2 separate regions of the Homo sapiens genome follow, and region 2 is linked to region 1. The links come from fine-mapping of genetic effects on gene expression. Tissue or cell type: prefrontal cortex. Region 1 holds a variant in brackets; the other region holds the start of a gene. All regions are shown on one strand. Distances are between the middles of the regions.

Region 1 (2,759 bases):
TGGGCTAAAAATTCGGCAAGTCATTCCTGTGGGCAGAGAAGGGGTGAAATGTTTTATAATGTGTTCTTATCCCTTCCAATGCACTCATACTGGTATTGAAACCCTCTCATGCAAGTGTGGTAGTTTACAGTTGCCAAACCACATGCATGTCGGTGATCCCACGTGCATTCCTAGCCCTTCTCTGTAAGGTTCACAGGACGGGTGCTGGTATCTCCATTTCACAGAGGATAAACTGAGGCAAAGAGAAGGCCCCAGATCAGCCAGATATTAGCAGCTCTCAGTGGCTGTCTCTCTGGCTCTTGGGGAGTCCACTGTGGTAGACTGGGTTACATTCAGCTATATTCACCTCCCCAAAGGAGAATTATGCACCCCAACTCTATCAATATGAGGCTATAAGACTTGCTCTGGCTAAGAAAATTTGAGCATAAGTGATGTGTGCTACTTTGGAGCAGAAGCTTGAAGACTTAGCACGTCACTCACCAGGTCTCTTTTCCCTCCGCCGTGACATCTGACAACGTTCCAGAGAGAGAAACGGAGAGACACAGACAGGCAGCGTGCTCCGTCAGCCTGAGTCCTAAAGTGAAGATGGTGTGGAACAGGGAAGTAGTTGACACATTATGGACATAGAGAGTGGGCAAGAAGCACACCTTTGTGATAAGGTTTAAATCCGCTGAGATTTTGGAGTCATTTCTTACACAGTAAAACCTAGCCTCTCCTAACTAATATATCTATAAAGGCAATATCCTTTCCTGAGAGTAGGGATTTATTATATCACCTCTAGATGAATCTTGACTGGTCTATTGTGCATGTATGCGTGCGTGTATGTGTGTTCATGGCACAAAGAATATGAGAAAGTGAAGGCCTAGCCCAAATTGTTCCAGATACTATGCAGAGAGGCCTGTTTCTCATTCTTCATCTCTTCTCTCCAATTATTTGTATTACTCTAAAGAAAACTTTCTGATTTCTGTTGAATTCTATGATAGCAGATAAAGGTTTTCTTCTTTCCTAACTTACTTGGGGAAACTGCTTTCAGGAGCTATGTATTGGCTCTTGGAAATAATTCTAGCAGCTTCTGTTTCCTGAGTGTTTATTCCCTACCAGGCACTATGCTAAGAGCTTCTCATGCTCTGCTTCATTTTCTCTTAATAATTCACATAGGTATTAAATG[C/T]TGCTGTTTCCTGATTTTTGAGACAAGGAAATGAAGAATTAGAGACCTTAAGGAACTTTCCAAAGCCACACAGCTACTAAGAAGCAAGGCTGGGACTGAAATCCAATTACAGTGTTGGATGATTTCTGACTTGTCAGTTTGGGTCCCTCATGTATTTGTAGGCACTATTATGCTTGCTTCCACTGGTATTTCTTCCCCCCTCCCCACCCCCCGCTGCTAATTCCAAGCCCCACTCTTTGCTCACCATGGATGGTAGAAGGGAATCTCCTTTCCTTAGTCCTGGTTTCAGTGAGGAAGGATTTTTTTCTGAGCACATTCTTGGTTCCTCTCCGTGCTTTATCCATTCCTGGAAGGATGAAGGATTGTACATTTGAGAATACCTGGTCATGCCCAACTCAGCACTTCTTCTGATAGGGAGGGAGCTGCTCCTCAGCCCTGCTCCCTTCAGCAGGAGGCCTGCCCTAGTCTTTGCAGCCCACTTCTGGGGTTCACTATTAGTGGCACCCTTCAGCTACCAACCCTAAAAGTTTCTTCTCCAACCTGGCAATATCACTAATAAAGAAAATATTCTGGCCTTCCTCTGCATCTTTTTGTTGATATCTCAACTTGTTCAGAAGTCAGACGAGGCAAAGGAATGCTATTTATTCAGAGTCCTGCATAGAGCCCCAAATGGGCATCCTAAGGGAACTGCACTGGTGGGAAAGATTTCATGGTCCACTGATGGTCCCTGTCCTCACCTTGGTGGCCTCAGGGTTTAACATCAGCCTCCCTGGACCTTCAAGGTGCTCTAACACCTGCCCCCCTTTTAGGCAATGAAGGATGGTATGGCAAAAATAGCTGGTTGTTTCTCAGTATCCATTCTTTTCTTCCCTCATTAGTAATAATCCTCCCCAGAACAAAGACTAAATTTCTCTGCATCCCTTTCAGCTAGGTGTGACCATGTGACCTACCAATGGGATGTCAGCAAAAGCAATAGGTACAACTTCTGGGTCATACACTTAACAGGAAGGCATGTGCTATCTACTTCTTTTTCTCCCCTCTCCTGGTGTTAGCTGGAGTAAGTATTTTGAGCCATGATATAGAAGCATGATTTGGGGGTGGCAGTGCCATAACCAAGGAGGAACTTACATCTTGCTGCCTTCAAGCTGCTATATCACCTCTGTACTACTTACCCAGACTTCCATGTGCGGGAAGAATACATTTCTATCTTGTGAAAGCCACTATCATTCTTTAGTCTCTTGTTTGCAGCATCTGAACCCATGTATTCTAAGCAGGTACTCAAGAAGTGCTTTCCAACTGGGGAAGGGGTTCAGGGCTCTGGCAGGAACCTAAGTGTGTGCCTGATTCACATGGATGAGGGAATCAGTGAATAAAGGTAGGAGAGAAGAGAAGGACCAGGCATTTGTTGAATGCGTGGAATATTCTAGATACTGTACCACATACTTTCAGTTACACTTTCCCAGTTAATCTGAACAACAATTCCGTGTGTGTATGGGTGAGGGGAAAATCTATTATCTGATTTTATAGTTGAGGCTCAGAGAAGTTAAGTGATTTGGGCCAGGCACAGTGGCTTATGCCTGTAATCCCAGCA
Region 2 (2,616 bases), 280 kb after region 1:
ACCTGCTTCACAGAGTGAAAATTAGATGAGATGATGTCTGTAAAATTACGTAAGACGGTACCCAAAAGTAGTACTATTTTTCCCTTTTCTTATTAGAGCAGGTTGCGCACGTTTTGATGTCCGTGGGAATGAGCAGGTAGAGAGGGTGGTATTGAGGCCGGAGGGGAGAGAAGGGACCCACAGATGGGGAGAGAAGTCTTGGGTGCCTGTTTTATCCCAAACCAGGGGAAGGAGGGAACAGGTAGGGCTGGCTGCAGGAAAGCTTGCAGGTATGGGGTACACAGTTAAAAGGGAGTGTCTTCTGATAGTCTTGATGCAGGCCTGGAGGTCGTTTGTTATGGGGGTGGAGGTCCTGATGTACATTGTGGCGGTAAGATGCCGTGCTGTCTTTGCCACCAGCCTGTGGCAGCCCTGGTGTTACACCAGGGCAGGTGGGCAGTTTAATGTATCTCAGGCCAGATGACCTGCCCTGCCCACCTGTTGAGGCTCCAGTAGATAGACGTGAAAGCACAGTATAAGCATAATGCACCACTTTAATCCTTTTCTCTGAGGAGCTGGAAGGCCTGTAGTCACCATCTGAGCCAAATGTCATTCAAGTACTTCACTTGGGTTACACACCACACTTTGACCCACTATCTCATTTAGTCATCACAACAAATGGGTGAAATAGGTATTATTGTCCCATTTTACAGATGCAGAATCTGAGTTTCAGGGAAGTTAAGGACTTTGTCCCAGGGCCCACAGTTAGTAAGCAGTGGACCCAGGATTTCAACTCAGCTCTGTCTGACCTCAAAACCCATGATCTGAAACCACTGTGAAAGTTTGCAAAACCTCTGTAGCAGCCAAGCAGGATGGAAAGATGTGTAGGGATTGTCTTCTCCATTTGATAGATGAGACAAGAGCTGGGTACTCTGATCTCCATCCCAAGCACACAGAGCTTGGGGCCCCACAGCCCTGGTGTGAATCCCACTCCACTACCAGAGGCTGTGTGCCTTTGGACCAGGCATCTTGCTTCTCTGACCCTATATACAGCTGCAGAAGAATTCCTTGCAGGTTGCTGTAAGGATTTGGAGGGAAACTGTTGCCCAGCACACAGTACACATTCTGGGAGCCATCGTTTCCCCAGTGCACTTTTCCTGCAAATGTGGATCTACATCCCACTTGGATGCTGAGACCAGCTGCTGTGATCTTGCATTTGTTTAGCGCTTTGTTCTCCTTGAGGCAGTAAAGTGGTGGCACCTGACCGGAGCATGTAGCCACCTATGACTTCCTGAGTGGGGTGGTGTGGGGAGGGCCCTGAGGAGTCTGTGGTCCTAGGCCTTGGATTTCATCAGGGCTTTCCTGCTCCTTCTGGTTGCCTCAGTCCCAGGCAAGATAGGGTCCCAGAATCTTACAGCCCAGAGGCCACCTGTTGCAACTTCTTTTTTACAGATGGAGTCATCAGAACCCACTGTGAGGAAGTGACTTCTCCTTGAGGTCACCCAGACACTCCAAACAGAGCAGAGCAAAAGCGCCTAGAACTTGAAATTTTGGACCTGTCTCCAACACCCTGGGGATTTCCACCAGGAAGGTGAGCACCCCCACTGAGAATTCCAGGCTGCTCAGAGGTGCCAGGGAACACAGACCAGGGACCAGCTGTGGCCCCCTCCTCCGATGTGCCCAGGGAAGTGGGGGAAGCCAGCGGCAGCCTGCGATTCTCAACCAGGGGAACTCTCACTGTGCTTTCTGAGAGTCTGTGACACGGGTCATTTTCTCTGACTTGCTCTCTTGCTTTTTCTCACTCTAAAAAAAAAAAAAAATGACTGGACACTCCTAAAGCCTTCAGTCACCATCCAGGGGATTTTTATCGCCACAAAGGGTAATTCCTGCTCCATCCCTGCTGTGACTCAGCTGTGACGTTGAACCACACAAGCCAGAGAGAAGAAGATAAAGTCATCAGAGCTCCTACTCACCAGAGAGTGAGGCCCAGGCCAGGACTCCACAAGGCTGGTCCCCTGCCCTGGAGCAACTTAAACAGGCCCTCTGGCCAGCCTGGAACCCTGAGATGGCCTCCAGCTCAGGCAGCAGTCCTCGCCCGGCCCCTGATGAGAATGAGTTTCCCTTTGGGTGCCCTCCCACCGTCTGCCAGGACCCAAAGGAGCCCAGGGCTCTCTGCTGTGCAGGCTGTCTCTCTGAGAACCCGAGGTGAGGTGATGGAGGAGCGGAGGGTGGGCAGAAAGTGGGTGCCAGGGAGGGACCCCTGATGGGAGGTGAGGGGCAGAGGAGCCTGTGACTTCAGGCGGTGACTTTTCTTCTCTGGGCCTCAGTTTCCACACCCTTTTCTCACACTCCCTGACACTGCCCCTCTGGCTGTGGTGGAAGGAGAGGAAGCCACAGAAAGGCATCAGCTCCCACAGGGGAAAGCCATCCACACCGAGGAGAGCCTCGAGGCTGTGAGGCCACTGTCTCACTGTGTGGTCTGGTGCTCTGCTAATGTCCCTAAGCCGCAGCTCGCTTGTCTGTAAAGCTGTTTTCTGTGTCATAGAATTGTTAATGAAGCCCAATGAATAATAATCACAAAAGTCCTTATAATAACAAATATAAACCTCTTGGTGAATGACAAACTGTTAGACGAAT

What was found. PIP is the estimated chance that this variant, and not a neighbour inherited with it, causes the effect.
Region 2: it holds the start of TRAF1, and the variant in region 1 is fine-mapped to the expression of TRAF1 in prefrontal cortex (GTEx, PIP above 0.99).

Annotation. Positions count from the first base shown.
Region 1 is chr9:121,208,051-121,210,809 of GRCh38, reverse strand. It overlaps a transcript of GSN not described here. Among named protein-coding and RNA genes, the nearest start is that of RAB14, 7.6 kb to the right of the region's middle. The variant C/T (reference allele first, on the strand shown) is at 1,169.
Region 2 is chr9:120,925,504-120,928,119 of GRCh38, reverse strand. It overlaps TRAF1 (TNF receptor associated factor 1), which reads left to right and starts at 1,324. Exons shown (of 8, transcript NM_005658.5): 1 at 1,324-1,570; 2 at 1,819-2,184. The coding sequence starts at 2,045. RefSeq lists enhancers at 1,046-1,365, 1,706-2,045, 2,506-2,575, 2,172-2,616.